2 separate regions of the Homo sapiens genome follow, and region 1 is linked to region 2. The links come from fine-mapping of genetic effects on gene expression. Tissue or cell type: skeletal muscle. Region 2 holds a variant in brackets; the other region holds the start of a gene. All regions are shown on one strand. Distances are between the middles of the regions.

Region 1 (8,113 bases), 20 kb before region 2:
TTGGGTGTGACAAGAATGACCCAATTTGTGCGATCAACTTTCACATTCTCCTTCCCAACTCTATGACCGGGACATTGACGACTGTCCATGAGCCAGAAAAAAACTCAAGTACAGGGGCTTTTGCTGCTGTTCAAATCTTCCATAAGGCTAGGAAAATAGCATGCAATCCAACCCACCTAGCCAATTTGCCTTTGCCTTCTTCCATCAGAGGGGTGGCCTTCCAAGTAGGATGTTGTCCATTCATCTAGGAATGACTGTCTACAAACTAAGTAGCTCTTGGTCAGTAAGTAAAGAGCTGTGTATAGGGCAATGTCCAAGTGACCACAGAATCCAGCAGCTCCTCACCCAGTTCCAGACTCAGTCTGAGGGGAACAGAGGCTCCCTGCTCATGAGTGTCTCCTCTTTGCCTTCCTCAGGCACCAGGATCCCATATCAACCATTTCCATTTTTTAGGCTGAGTGAGGTGGCTCACGCCTGTAATCCCAGCACTTTGGGAGGCTGAGGCGGGTGGATCACGAGGTCAAGAGATCGAGACCATCCGGGCCAACATGAAGATCCCTCGTCTCTACTGAAAATTCAAAAATTAGCCAGGCGTGGTGGCATGTGCCTGTAATCCCACCTACTCGGGAGGCTGAGGCAGGAGAATCGCTTGAACCCAGGAGGCAGAGGTTGCAGTGAGCCTGGATCGTGCTGCACTCCAACCTGGCAACAGAGTGAGACTCCATCTCAAAAAAAAAAAATCCATTTTGTAATAGAACTCTTCTGGGACTGGCCTCCCCGTTAGAGCTTTTCCAAGATTCCTGAAGACATCATCAGTTTTTCAGGTTTCAAGATTATTTTATGTCCTTCAGTGACAGGGGAGACTTCAGTTAGTGTTCCATCTCAAGCTAGTAAGTGCCTCTTAAGTGGAAACTTGACTCTAAAGGCCCAGTTCCTTGGAGGTGCTCACAGCCTTTTGCCATTAGCCCTAGTCAGTGCTCCACACAGGGCACAGAGAATGCGTTGTTACCTGCAGTCTGGTTTCTGGTCTATACTGTGTGGTCCACCCTCCAGGGCCAAGGGAGCTAAGGTGCTCTAAGGACTTTCCTGCAGGCCCTGGTGGCTCTGTGTTAATGCTGTCAGTCTTCCTGAAGTCCCTGACCTTTCACCTCCTGCCTGGATCTGCACCCCGCACACATTCCTGACCCCACACATTTCTCATTGCCTGGGTCCTGGCACACATTTCTGACCCTAGCTCAGTGTCTGGGGCCTGGCACACATTTCCGACCCTAGCTCAGTGCCTGGGGCCTGACACACATTTCTGACCCTAGCTCAGTGCCTGGGGCCTGACACACATTTCTGAGTCTAGCTCAGTGCCTGGAACCTGGCACACATTTCTGACCCTAGCTCAGTGCCTGGAACCTGGCGCACATTTCTGACCCTAGCTCAGTGCCTGGGGCCTGACACACATTTCTGACCCTAGCTCAGTGCCTGGGGCCTGACACACATTTCTGAGTCTAGCTCAGTGCCTGAAACCTGGCGCACATTTCTGACCCTAGCTCAGTGCCTGGGACCTGGCACACATTTTTTTTTCTTTTTTTTTTTTTTCACAGAGTCTCGCTCTGTCACCCAGACTGGAGTGCAGTGGCACGAATCTCGGCTCACTGCAACCTCCATTTCCTGGGTTCAAGCAATTCTCCTGCCTCAGCTTCCTGAGTAGCTGGGATTACAAGTGCCCGCCACCACGCCCAGCTAATTTTTGTATTTTTAGTAGAGATGGGGTTTAACTATGTTGGCCAGGCTGGTCTCGAACTCCTGACCTCTTGATTCGCCCACCTCAGCCTCTCAAAGTGCTGGGACTACAAGCGTGAGCAACCGCGCCCGGCCCTGGCTCACATTTCTGACCCTAGGTCATTGTCTGGGCCCTGGAAGGTGCTCAGGGTGATCCATCGCTCAAATCCAAGCCTGTGGAGAGGATGACATTTCATTCCCAGGTTTCTCATGAGCCAAAAAACCTTCATTTCTATAGCGCTATCCTCTTCTATCTACCATGTGAGGGGTCAGGAGCCGACTCATCCCAAGGGTCTAGGAGTCCTGCCATTGACCTTACTGCTTAGGGTCACAAGCTGGCACCCTTCAAAACCACACATTGGGTCTGCCCTCACAGCGGCAGTGTGTTCAACTGGATGGGGAGGTAAGTAGCCCAAGGTCAGACAGTTGGACCTGGGTAGACAATAGACTTGGGGACAGACTTTGGAAGGCACTCCCCTGATTCCCCTGTCTCCATGGGGCCTCAATACTAGAGCCCTCAAGGTTGGTCAGGGAGTGTTTGTGCTTTGACCATGCAAAGGGTGCCAGGTTGTGGCTAGGGATGCCCCCGGCGTTCCTCTCCCTCCTACCTACTCCTCAGCCTCTGCAGGTGCCTGTCATGGCCTCTGTGTCCTTCATTCTGTCCACTCATGTGTTCACTGGGCCCCTCCTTGGTGCCAGGCACCCGCTACTGAGGGATACCAAGCCCCTGCCAGAGAAGCTTGGAGCTGGGTCACAGCAGCAAGGAGGCTGGAGACATCAGTGGCATCAGTGCACTGGTCAGTGAGGCCGCTGTGGGAGGAGGGAGTGGGAGCAGAAGCTAAGAGTGGACTGAAGTCCTGAGGCCAGGAAGTAGTTCAGGGTTTAAGAAGAGGAGAGACAGGCGGCCCGGGGAGGGAGCAGGCTCAGGATGGGCCTCCAGTGCCTCCTCTGGAGCTCACTACCCAGACTACAGCAGCGCAGCGGGCAGCGCCTCAGCTCCTTCCCCTTCTGCTGCCTACAGCCTGGACAGGACCCGGAATCAAACCGCAGGCCCTGGGTCACCGCTGCCGGAAAGAGCCAGTTCCTGTCCGTCCATGCACCCACCCACACAACCTGGGCCCTCCTGGAGGTGCTGGGGGAGACCCAGCCTGAGTGCCTGGAAGTGACTGCGGGAAGGGAGTACAACTGACCACGCCTTTTTTCCGGGGTATAAAAGCGGAGGAGCACGTTCTATTCTGGCAGTGTAGCTGCGAGAACCTTTGCACGCGCACAAACTACGGGGACGATTTCTGATTGATTTTTGGCGCTTTCGATCCACCCTCCTCCCTTCTCATGGGACTTTGGGGACAAAGCGTCCCGACCGCCTCGAGCGCTCGAGCAGGGCGCTATCCAGGAGCCAGGACAGCGTCGGGAACCAGACCATGGCTCCTGGACCCCAAGATCCTTAAGTTCGTCGTCTTCATCGTCGCGGTTCTGCTGCCGGTGAGTCTCCGCCGCGGTCCCTGGCTGGGGAAGAGCGCACCTGGCGCCGGGAGTGGGCAGGGAGAGAGGGGGACACGGTGGGGATGCTTGGCCCGGGTCGCCTGCGGCCGGGCATGTCTGGGCAGGACGAACCCGCCGTCGGAGTCAGGGGAAGAGTGGGGTGCCCGGGCTGGGCAGGAGCGACCGGGCCGCGAGGGAGCAGAGCGCGCGCTCCCCCTGGCTGTCCCGTGCGGCGAGGACCGCACTGAGCTGCCCCAGAGGAAGTTCCAGAATCAGCGGAGGGAGGGAGTCAAGATGGAAACCCCGGAGTGAACCTCAGGAAGCCACAGAGCGGTTGCCTCTTTCGTTCGTTCGTTCGTTCGTTCGTTCATAACGTTAACCCAGGCCGGTCGCGGTGGCTCACGCCTGTAATCCCAGCACGTTGGGAGGCCGAGGCGGGCGGATCACCTGAGGTCAGGAGTTGGAGACCAGCCTAGCCACCATGGTGAAACCCCGTCTCTACTAAAAATACAAAAATTAGCCGGACGTGATGGCGGTCGCCTGTAATCCCAGCTACTCGGGAGGCTGAGGCAGAAGGAGAATCACTTGAATCCGGGAGGCGGAGGTTGCAGTGAGCCGAGATCGCGCCATCGCACTCCAGCCTGGTCAACAAGAGCGAGACTCCGTCTCAAAAAAAAAAAAAAAAAAAAAAAAAAAGTTAGCCAGGCGTGGCAGCCTGCGCCTGTAGTCCCAGCTACTCAGGAGGCTGAGGCAGGAGAACTGCTTGAACCCGGGAGGCAGAGGTTGCAGTGAGCCGAGATTGCACCACTGCACTCCAGCCTGGGCGACAGAGCGAGACTCTGCCTTAACAAAAACAGACAAACAAACAAACAAAATTAACCCTATGTTTACACTGTTACACGTGTTTCTTGGAGATCAGTTTAACAAACAGCCTGTGAAAAAGCTTTCCAACGCTGTTTTTTGTAACTTTCATTTCCTATAGAACCCTGAAAGTGGCAGGAAGCGGTTAACCAAGGTGCTTGCAGTCAGTGTCTTCCACTGCCACCCGTGTGTCCCCTCTGTATCCCATAGGCAGGACCGCGGGATGGCCCCTTCCTTAGGCATAAAAGATGTAAAGTTCTCGTTGTGAGTTGGGTTTGGAAACTGAGATTGGTAGTGGGGTGCACAAGAAGGACATAAAAATAAGATGTGCAGACTGCCAGGACTTTTTCTGAGTGACTGACGTTTCTGCCAACAGTGCTTTCTAAGGTTTCTTACGTAATACCAAAAAACAAAACGGGGAGGATAAAACAAGATTACATGAACCATGAGAGTCTCCATGTTTTCTTTCAACGAAGTAATACTAAATTCAGAACAGCAGTGACATTTTCACCTCTCAAAAATTACACAACTGACTTCTACAATAGTTTATAGTGGGTGGACCTACCTGAGGCAGCTAGAAGAATGGCTGTGTCAGGACAGTGGCCCTGAAGAGAGAATGTGTGGATGACCTGTGTAGACAAGACCAGCAACCTGAATTTCACAGTTTTGGGAATGTGAACTCTATGCGTCCCAAAGGAGGCTTTGATCCCTCCATCAATCTTGCCTTATTAAATGCATTTCAATGCACAGTTGCTTTTTAAAATTTTGGAGCTAGCACAAATCACATTAGATGTTTTATGGCAGTACATTCAGATTGATTTTCTTTTAAACAAGGGTATTGTATTTTACTACATGGGTAAGCCACAGGTTAATTCACTGTTGCCATCTAGAGGCAGCTGGTTATATCCCATCCCGATGGGATATAACCCAAAGCAAATTTGCCTTTGCTAATTCCAACAGCATTGTACTAAATACCCTTGTATGTATCGTGTGTCCACATGTCCATGCGCACCAGCTTATTGGGCAACTCCTTAGAAGTAGAATTTTACTTCTACTTCCGTGGGATAAATCATTTCAGAAGTTTCTTTAGATGTTTACGAATTTTCTTCCAAAAGACCATTGAACTCAGCTTACACTCACACCTAGTTCACACATGTGCCTGTATCCCTACACCCTTGTTACACTTAGCTTTCATTCGTTGCTAGTCTAGGAAGTAAAAGGTGATTCATCACATTGTTATGTACTTTCATTCCTTAATGGTATTAGGAATTTTCAAGGATACGGGAGTTTTGGTAGTGGGAGTAGATGACCGGGGGATCCAGATGAGACAGCAGGGGAGGGTGGCAGGGAAGACTGAATTCCCAGCTGTGAACTTGGAGAACCGTGGTCAGCTGGGGCCAGTCCCTGCCACCTGCCACGCCTGTAAATGGAGATAAGGTCTCCATCTTCAGGCTGTCAGGAGGACATCAGATGAGCCTGGAGCTGAGCTCAGTTCCTGACCCCAGGTCCTGGCTCTGTCAGCGTTGGACTGTTCCAATCTGTGTGACAGAGGCTTCCGCCCCGCCCTTCTCTTTATCAAAGTAGGAATCGAAAAGATCCAACGGCCCAGAATCTCGGACTCTGAGGCTCTCAAGGACTCCTGAGATTGGAGGCTGGGAACAGCTGGGCCCTGCTGTGCTTCCCCTCCAGCTCTGTGACACTGGTGTGGCCCCAGCTCCTGCCTGTAAAGTGAAGAGGAGATAAAAATCTTCAGCAGCCCTGTGTAAACCTCAGAGGGCTGTGTTAGCAGGTGTGGGAGGATGAACCACATCCTCAGGGCTGGTGTCAGTCACTCCGGACTGGATCCCCAGGGCACATGTCCTCCACCCAGCAGAGGCTGCACCTGTTCCTACTTGCACCTCCATACCAGGCTCCCTGGCCTTGGGGCAGAAGCTTCTGAAGACTGGGGTGGAGCACCATGTGGAGGGGCCATCGAGGAACAGAGGAGCCAGAGTTCAAGTGAGGACAGCGATGGCACTGCAGGGCCACAGCCTGGTTTACCTGCCAAGTTTCCAGTTGTGCTTCTGGTGGGTGTCCGGCCCGGGTTGGAGTTTGAAGATGAGCAGGAAAGGTCTCCATCCAGGTGGCTGCAGATGGCTGCTCACCCAGCCCCTACTGAGAGGCCACGGTCCCAGTTCTGGTTCTCTGTCCTGTATCCAGGAGTGGCAGGGTAGCGAGGCTCTAGCTTCCAGGTTGGGGATGGAGACAGTGGGGACAGTGCCATGCCCCGAGCCTGTGCTGTTGGGCAGCTGGTATCCTGCTCCCAGCCAGAGAGTGTACATCTTCGTGTAGTGGATTTTCCTAACAACCAGGGGACATGAGGGCAGGTTGTTTTCCCTGTTTTACAGGTGGCAAAATGAGATTCAGGAGCAATGTCTCCAGCATTTTTGTCCTCACCTTCTGAATAATAGCAGCCATATTTGGGCCTCTGAAGGGCTAGAGTTCTCTGAGGAGCTGCTTCTCTGATCTCTGTCCTGCACTTGGCCTCTGGGAGCTCCTATGGGTCCTCAGCAGAGTCCACAGGGCTCTTCGGAGTCCCCTCCCTGTGCCACAGCCTGGAGCCTGTCCTTAGGTGGTAAGCTGAGGCCGCCACTGCGCTCACCTCATGGGCTTGGGGGGAAAGTGAGTCACCCAGGAAATAGACAATGAGCTCTTTATTGTCTTTGGAGTCTGCTGGAGCCAGGGAGGACAGATGAACCCCATGTGAATCCTGCTTCCTGGAGCCCACAGTGTGGTGGGTGAGGTGACACCAGGAATCATATAACTAATAGGAGGTAGCATGAGGGAGGCCTGATATCTCACCACCATTGCCTCCCCCTCCTCCAGAGAGGCCGTGTTGGTGCAAGGCTATAGGATGTGGTATTGTTGGCGTGGAGGATGGTGTTTGGTTAGAGTCACCATTGAGAGTCATAGAGGGAAGCGAAGCTCCCCTTGAAGGGCTTTTTTTTTTTGGCTGGACCTGAGAATTAAATTGACATAAGACAGGTACACAGGAGAAAAGCACGTACGACTTCTTTTTTCTTGAGATGGAGTATTGTTCTGTCACCCAGGCTGGAGTGCAGTGGTGCAATCTCGGCTCACTGCAACCTCCGCCTCCCAGATTCAAGCGATTCTCCTGCTTCAGCCTCCTGAGTACCTTGGGATTACAGGTGCCCACCCTTGCGCCTGGCTAATTTTTGTATTTTTAGTAGAGACGGGGTTTTGTCATGTTGTCCAGGCTGGTCTCGAAGTCGAGCTCAGGTGATCCGCCCATCTCAGCCTTCCAAAATGCTGGGATTACAGGTGTGTGCCACCATGCCCAGCCAACACACACATTTATTTAATGCAAGTTTTACCTAGCACAGAGAAGCAGTGAGAGTCAGTTACTTATATATTGAATTGGACCAAGTAACTTGTGAAGAAGCTAGTAAATATATGGAGGCTAAAAAGCTGAGTGGTTCTGTTCTAACAAGGTCTGCACAGTAATCTCTTGGCCTCGACTTCTCATCCTTAAAAATAAGGAGATCGTCCTATGTTTCCCTGGGGACTTTCATCTCCTGCTTTTAGGAAACACAAAAGAGGTCAAAGCATCTTATTGCGCCTGCTGTTTTTCAGTAGCCTTTAACTGATAATAGTCAATGGGCCAGGGTGGGTGGGCAGGTGCGATGGCTCACATGTATAGTCCTGCCCAGGTGGGTGCATCCTTAGAGCCCAGGAGTTCAAGACCGGCCTGGGAAACATAGCAAAATGCTGTCTCAAAACCAAAAACCAAAATAAAACCAAAAACCACAGACACAGACACACACACACACACAGAAAATCATGTCGTGTGAAGGAATACAAGCAGAATGCATACCATGTGATTCCTCATCTTATTAAAATACAACTAATCTATTGTGATAAAAAGCAGAAGAAGCATTGCTGGGGACATAGGAGCAAAGCAGAAGAGAGGATTACATTGAAAAATGAAGAAACACTGCAG
Region 2 (8,127 bases):
CTCCCCAGCAGGAGTCCCTTTGTCCAGGCTGAATTGTTCACTGGGCACAGGAGGTGACTTTCTAGGTCCCTTGAACCTTTTCAGGCAACCTAGGAAATGTAATTTCCTTTTGAAATCAGAAGAAAACACTTGAATCCAGCCTGGCTTGTATTTTTCCTTACTCTAAGTTGGTTTAAAAAATGTAATTTTTAATATTTTTTATGTGGGCAGGGACCCATAAAGACAAAAGTGTCCGTAGCCCACAAAAGTCATAATAAGGCCATGGGTGGAGCTCCCTTAAGTTCCCATGAGGACCTGAGCCCACCCAGCCGGCCTCACCCCTGGCCCCCGATTTCTCACTAAGTCCTTCTTTATCCTATTTGGGTTTTAGGGGCAAAGAGTAACTTGCTCTTCTCTGGCCCTCCAGTGTTTGCTGTGGTTGGGAGGAACCAGCGGCAGACAGGGTGGGGCGAGGACTCACTTGTACTGTGTGTTAACTGGAGGAAGGGGCTCAGCTTGTGGCCACAGGGGCTTGTGATCTTCCCCTGGAGTGCGGCTCCTCCTAACGCAGGCCTCCCCTGCAGCCCAGGGAAGCTCAGTGTGTGCCCAGCACAGAAGGCTCCTGGATCTACAGCTCTGACCCCAGAGCAGGGAGGCCGAGGGGCTGAAGTGTGCATGCTCAGACCCTTCCCCAGCCTCAAGAAGGGAGCACAGGGGGACCCACTGCTGACACGAGGAGCCTGTCCTCCTGACGCCTTCTCAGGGACTTTGGGCAGGGAGGGTGGCTCCTCTTTCATCCCACCTGGCCAGCTTTCCATCAAGAGTCCCTGTCTCCCTCTCTGTGTGTACCCAGGTGTCCCAGAGGGATGGTCAAGGTCAGTAATTGTACGCCCCGGAGTGACATCAAGTGCAAAAATGAATCAGCTGCCAGTTCCACTGGGAAAACCCCAGCAGCGGAGGAGACAGTGACCACCATCCTGGGGATGCTTGCCTCTCCCTATCACTACCTTATCATCATAGTGGTTTTAGTCATCATTTTAGCTGTGGTTGTGGTTGGCTTTTCATGTCGGAAGAAATTCATTTCTTACCTCAAAGGCATCTGCTCAGGTAGGTGCTGGCTGAGGGTGGGAGCGCTGGGCACTGTCTGCCCTGCCCTCTCCCACTCCGTTCCCACAGACAGTAATCCCCATCCCTGCCCCTGGTCCAAGCGTCTCCAGCCTGGCTTGGTCTTCCTTCTTGTGATCGCCCCATCCCCACGTCCTGTGTATCCCCAAGGACCCTGGTCTCATCAGTCCCTCTCTCAGGGCTGGGGGACCCCTCATCTCCCGGAGCCAACTCCAGGAGGGCAGGGCCAGTTCCTCCTATCTTCAGGCCCAGCCAGGCAGGGGGCAGTCAGCTCCTCAACTGGGTGACAAGGGTCAGGATGAGAAGTGGTCGTGGGATTTATTCAGCCTTGGTCAGAGCAGAACACAGAGATTTTCCACGTGTTGGTTTTTACTCTAGTTCCCCTTCTCATCCCCCTTCCTCAGGGTGTCCCCTAATTGCAAGGCCCCATTCTGTCCCCAGCCCCAGGGCTCCTTGTCCAGTGTCCCAGCCCCCAGCCAGCCCTGCGCCCCACTGTCCTCTGGGAGGGAGGTGCTGCATGGGCCCCTCCCCGCCTGCTCAGGAGACTGCTTCTTTTCCAGGTGGTGGAGGAGGTCCCGAACGTGTGCACAGAGTGAGTTGGTTTCTCCAGAAACTGGGGGCTTCGTGGGTTCAGGAACTGCTTCCCATCCACTGCCGAGCCTGGGTGGGCACAATCCCTTGTCCTCATGGCTGCCCTGACTCTCTGACATGGCCTGGGGGATCTGGGCTGACTGTGGGGGACACACGGCCATTTTGAGCAGCACACAGACCAGCAGGCCGTGCTGCAGCCCTGTCCTTCCTGCAGCCTCGGTGACACCATCACTCCACAGCTGGCCCCATGGGGATGGGGTGACCACCTGACCCACCTCAGCATGGGGTCCTGGATGTGCTGAGCCTCAGCTGCCTGGGGTGACCTCATTGGAAGGGGTTGGGGATGGCAGGTCCAGCTGTGTACTGGGGACCCTGAAGCTGAGCCCGGGGTGTGGACTTGAGTGGGCTCTTTGTCTTCCCAAGGTCCTTTTCCGGCGGCGTTCATGTCCTTCACGAGTTCCTGGGGCGGAGGACAATGCCCGCAACGAGACCCTGAGTAACAGATACTTGCAGCCCACCCAGGTCTCTGAGCAGGAAATCCAAGGTCAGGAGCTGGCAGAGCTAACAGGTGTGACTGTAGAGTTGCCAGAGGAGCCACAGCGTCTGCTGGTGAGTTGAGGAGGGACTGTGCCCTGCCTGGCGTGCAGCCTGCACAGGACTTTGTAGACAGTGGGACATGGCAGTGCCTCCTCTTTCCTGGCCCAAGGGGACATGGAGCCTTTGGGAGACAGGGGACTGCAGGGGACGGAGCAGCTGCACTGAGGTGGTGACCGTGCCAGTCTGCAGGACATCTGCTTCTTACTCCCTGTCCTGTCCTTGCTGTGTCCCCAGAGCCTGGATCTCCACAGGCATAGAGTGGGTGTCACAGGGTTCACTGAGGACTGAATAAGGCTGCACAGTCTCCATCGTGTGCTCCTAACAGAAGTCAGGGAGCCCTTGCTTGAAACAGCGGAAGTTTTAAATGTTCTTCAAAATTCTTACTACATTGAACATATTTCACAGTAAATCTTTGTCCAGATTTCTGATCAAGTATGTAAGGAGGCTTCTGGGAAGAAGTAGGATTTCTGAGTCAGTGTGTAGAAGTGCTTTTGTATTACAGAAACACACACATCCAGTTATTCACATCGATTCACTAGTTTTGATATGACATTGAGTAGGTGTGAAATCTGGACACACATTTGTTTTTTTTTAAGTTCTTTCCTTCAGGATAAAATAAGATGATCCTACCTAATTTTTTGTGGACTTTTAAAGAATGATTTGGTTTGTAGCATACACCAGTGGAACGTAGGTGCCATTTCTTTTGTGATGCTGTGTGAAGTGAGGAATTCCCTGAATTGTTGTGAGTCACTGTCTCCTTCCTCCACGCCTGTTTAGGAACTGATTCTCCTATTTTTCTCTGCTTTTGGCTCCTCTTTGATCACTTGTCAAATACTTACCTAGACAAGGTTCACTTTCCACCCATTTTCTTCCTTTCCTATAACTATACCCCATTTTTTTTAATGAAGGGAAGTATAAAAAGGTAAGGAAATAAACAAAAAATATCAACAATTACTCCACGCTGCTGAATCGCATTGCACCTTTGTTTTGTAATTTGTAGAGATCTGATCTTGCTATGTTGCCCAGGCTGGTCTCAAACTCCTGGCCTCAAGTCATCCTCTCACCTTGGCCTCCCAAAGTGGTGGGATTACAGGCATAAGCCACTGCACCTGGCCGCGCTGCACATTTTTTGAAAGTGGTAAATGCAGAGCCACACATCTGCCACACTATAGAAAGGTGCTCAGTCGGCCGGGCGCCGTGGCTCATGCCTGTAATCCCAGCACTTTGGGAGGCCGAGGAGGGTGGATCACAAGGTCAAGAGATGGAGACCATCCTGGCCAACATGGTGAAACCCCACCTCTACTAAAAATACAAAAAATTAGCCGGGCGTGGTAGCGGGTGCCTGTAGTCCCAGCTACTCGGGAGGCTGAGGCAGGAGAATGGCGTGAACCCGTGAGGCGGAGCCTGCAGTGAGCCGAGATCACGCCACTGCACTCCAGCCTGGGCTACAGAGTCAGACTCCATCTCAAAACAAAAACAAAAACAAAAAAAAAACAAAGGTGCTGAGTCATAGTGGTAGTCCCCTAACACTTCCTCCAGCCCCCAGCCCTTCTTCATTCAGGTGAATACAACAGATAATTTCTTGTGATTCTTTGTAGAAATCTTTATGCATATGCCATGTATATTCATACAAGCGTATGTACATTTTGTTTACATTACAGGGATTACTTTACATATAATACACTGCCAAGGAAACTTTTTTTCATTTTTTATTTTTCCTTTTTCAAATTTATTTTGATTCAGGGGGTACATATGTAAGTTTGTTTGATGCTGAAATTTGAGGTATGAATG[A/G]TTTTATCCAGGTTGTGGGCACAGTATCCAACAGTTAGTTTTTCACCCCTTCCTCCTCTCGCTCCCTCCCCGCCCTGGTAGTCCCCAGTGTCTATTGTTGCCATCTTTATGGTCGTAAGTACCTGATGTTTAGCTACTACTTATAAATGAGAACACGCAGTATTTGGTTTTGCGTTCCTACATTAATTCACTTAGGATGATGGCCTCCAGCTTCATCCATGTGGCTGCAAACAATATGATTTCATTCTTTTTTATGGCTGTGTGGTAACCTATGGTGTATATATGCCACATTGTCTTCATCCAATCCACTGTTGATGGGAACCTAGGTTGATTCCATGTCACTGCTATTATGGATAGTGGTGTCTTTTGGTAGAATGATTTGTTTTCCCTTTTTTTTTTTGAGAGGGAGTCTCGCTCTGTCACCCAGGCTGGAGTGCAGTGGCACAATCTCGGCTCACTGCAACCTCCGCCCCTCCAGGTTTAAGCAGTTCTCTGCCTCAGCCTCCAGAGTAGCTGGGATTACAGGCATGTGCCACCATACCCGGCTAATTTTTTGTATTTTTAGTAGAGACGGGGTTTCACCGTCTTGGGCAGGCTGGTCTTGAATTCCTGACCTCGTGATCCATCCACCTCGGCCTCCCAAAGTGCTGGGATTACAGGTGTGAGCCACCGCGCCCAGCAGATTTGTTTTCTTTTCTATGTATACCCAGTAGTGGGTTTGCTGTGTTAAATAGTAGTTGTTTTAAAATTCTTTGAGAAATCTCCAAACTCCTTTCCATACTGGCTGAACTAATTTACATTCCCACCAAAAGTATATAAATGATCCTTTTTCTTCATAGTCTCGCCAGCATTTACTGTTACTGGCTTTTTAATAATCGCCATTCTCACTGTATGAGATGGTATCCCACTGTAGTTTTGATTTGCATTTCTCTGATGATTCATGATGATGAGCATTTTTTCATATGTTTGTTGGCCACTTGTATGTCTTCTTTTGAGACATGTGTGTTCATGTCTTTTGCCCATTTTTAATGGGGTTGTTTTCTGTGTGTTCATTTAAGTTGCATATGGCTCCTGAATATTAGACCTTTGTCAGATGCATAGTTTGTAAATATTTTCTCCCATTCTGTAGGTTGTCTGTTACTCTGTTGATACTTTTTTTTTTTTTTGAGATGTACTCTCGCTCTGTCACCTAGGCTGGAATTCAGTGGCATGATCTCAGCTCACTGCAACCTCCGCCTCCCGGGTTCAAGTGATTCTCCCTCCTCAGCCCCCCTAGTTGCTGGGATTGCAGGCACGTGCCACCATGCCCAGCTAATTTTTGTATTTTTAGTAGAGATGGGGTTTTGTCTTGTTGGTCAGGCTGGTCTCGAACTCCTAACCTCAGGTGATCTGCCTGCCTCGTCCTCTCAAAGTGCTGGTATTATAAGTGTGAGCCCCCACACCCGGCCTGTGGAGAGTTTCTTCTGCTGTGCAGAAGGTCTTTAGTTCAATTAGATGCCACTTGACAATTTTTGTTTTTATTGCATTGCTTTTGAGGACTTAATCATAAATTCTTTGCCATGGCTGATGTCCAGAGGGGTGTTTTCTAGGTTTTCTTCTAGAATTCTTATAGTTCATGGTCTTACCTTTAAACTTTTAATCTACCTTGAGTTAATTTGTGTATATGGTGAAAAGTAGGGGTCTAGTTTTCGTTGTTCTGCATATGGCTAGCCAAATATCCGAAGCATCAGCTGTTGAATGGGGAGTTGTATTATTCCATTTTCATACTGCTATGAAGAAATACTTGAGACTGGGTAATTTATAAAGAAAAAGAGGTTTAATGGACTCACAGTTCCACATGGCTGGGGAGGCCTCACAATCATGGCCTGAGGTGAAAGATGAGCAAAGGCACATCTTACATGGCGACAGGCAAGAGAGCGTGTGCAGGGGACTGCTCTTTATAAAACCATCAGCTCTTGTGAGTCTTATTCACTATCACAAGAACAGAACTGGAAAAACCAGTCCACGTGATTCAGTTACTTCCAATAATTTTTTCCAATTCTGTGGAAAATGACATTGGTAATTTGATAGGAGTAGTATTAAATCTGTAGATTGATTTCAGCAGTATGCCCATTTTAGCCATATTAATTCTTCCAATCCATGAGCATGGAATGTTTTTCCATTTGTTCATGTTATCTATGATTTCTTTTAGCAGTGTTTTGTAATTCTCTTAGAGATCTTTCACATCCTTGGGTAGAGGTATTTCTAGGTATTGTGTGTGTGTGTGTGTGTGTGTGTGTGTGTGTGTGTGTGTGTCTGTTGTAAATGGGATTGTGTTATTGATTTGGTCCTCAGCCTGAACATTATTGGTATATAGATATGCTACTGATTTTTTTTCTTTTTGAGACAGAGTCTTGCTCTGTCACCCAGGCTGGAGTGCAGTGGCGCGATCTCAGCTCACTGCAAGCTCCACCTCCCAGGTTCACGCCATTCTCCTGCCTCAGCCTCCCCAGCAGCTGGGATTACAGGCGCACACTGCCACGCCTGGTTAGTTTTTTGTATTTTTAGTAGAGGTGGGGTTTCACCGTGTTAGCCAGGATGGTCTCGATCTCCTGACCTTGTGATCCGCCCTCCTTGGCCTCCCAAAGTGCTGAGATTACAGGCGTGAGCCACCGTACCCAGCTACGCCCCGTTAATTTTTGTATTCTTTAGTAGAGACGGGGTTTCACCATGTTGGTCGTGCTGGTCTTGAACTCTTGACATCGTGATCCGCCTGCCTCGGCCTCCCAAAGTGCTGGGATTACAGGTGTGAGCCACGGTGCCCGGTGCTACTGATTTTTATACATTGATTTTGTATCCTGAAATTTTGCTGAAGTCGTTTATTAGTTCCAGGGGCCTTTTGGTGGAGTATTTAGGGTTTCCAAGGTATAGAATCATATCGTCCATGAAGAGTTTTCACTTCTTCATTTCATATCTGGATGCCTTTTCTTTCTTTCTCTTGCCTGAGTGCTCTGACTAGGACTTCCAGTACTATGTTGAATGGGAGTGGTGAGCGTGAGCATCCTTGCCTTGTTCCAGTTCTCAAGGGGAATGCTTCCAGCTTTGGCCCATTCAGTATGATGTTGGCTGTGGGTTTGTCATAGATGGCTCTTACCATTTTGAGGCATGTTCCAATGGGAACTTTCTAATGTTTTTTAACATCCAAAAGAGCAAACACCTCTTCCATACTTTTTCAAAATGTATTATTTTACCCAGATAAAATTTAGAATTAAAAGATTTCCTCCATCCTTCCCTCCCGAAAAACCTCAGTTGCCGTTTTATCAATTCGCTTTAAAATTAAAAATTAATCTAGAAACACTGAATATTTTATTAATATTCAGTATTTCCTTATCAAAGGAGATAACATTTGGTGTCAAGTATTTTATTGTAACTGAGTTGTGATTTGTGTTCCTCTTCAAATAAATTATTCCTGTTTCTTATGGCTGTTTAGTATTTTGTATCCATTATGAGTTGGATAACCTTGTAATTCTGTTTGCTAATTTATTGCATTTGCTATGTTTTTAACATTCCTCCAGACATACATTTCTATTTCAATATTGTAGTTTCATCTTAGGGGTTTTAAATGACGTTGAAAATAATGATTATTGTGTCTGCCCTCTTCCAAAAGTCTTGCCTCATTTTAATTTTCCATCTTGTTGCCTAGGCCAGACCTTTCAGAACAATATTCAGCTGTGCTTAGGGAAGGCAGGTGTTTGGGTCCTGATTTGATTTCTGGGGAAGGCCTCCAAAGTGTCACTCTTAGCAATGGCATTCACTTTTGGTTTCATATAGAAATTCTCATCATCAAGAACACAGCTTACTATTCTAAAAGGGTTTGAAAAAAATCAGAATTGCTGTTTAATTTTACCAAATGTCTTTCCAGCCTCCATAGAGACTGCCATTTTATTTAATTACGCTATTGATATGGTAGAGTACTGATGATCAAAGATCATTTACAGTCTTGGGATAAATCATTTTGTTAGGTTTTCCTGGGTGCTCTCATATATAGTCTGCCGAGACTCTGCT

Which allele goes with the higher level. Positions count from the first base shown, and alleles are read on the strand shown. Sizes are in standard deviations (SD) of each study's normalised expression.
In carriers of allele A in region 2, the expression in skeletal muscle of the gene that starts at base 3,011 in region 1 tends to be higher than with G alone (small effect, 0.22 SD a copy in GTEx).

Evidence for each region. PIP is the estimated chance that this variant, and not a neighbour inherited with it, causes the effect.
Region 1: it holds the start of TNFRSF10D, and the variant in region 2 is fine-mapped to the expression of TNFRSF10D in skeletal muscle (GTEx, PIP 0.98).

Annotation. Positions count from the first base shown.
Region 1 is chr8:23,158,925-23,167,037 of GRCh38, reverse strand. TNFRSF10D (TNF receptor superfamily member 10d) reads left to right here and starts at 3,011. Exons shown (of 9, transcript NM_003840.5): 1 at 3,011-3,252. The coding sequence starts at 3,103. RefSeq lists an enhancer at 3,154-3,273.
Region 2 is chr8:23,138,627-23,146,753 of GRCh38, reverse strand. It overlaps TNFRSF10D (TNF receptor superfamily member 10d), which reads left to right. Exons shown (of 9, transcript NM_003840.5): 5 at 833-1,086; 6 at 1,665-1,696; 7 at 2,119-2,304. Among named protein-coding and RNA genes, the nearest start is that of TNFRSF10D, 21 kb to the left of the region's middle. RefSeq lists an enhancer at 1,437-2,164. The variant A/G (reference allele first, on the strand shown) is at 4,084.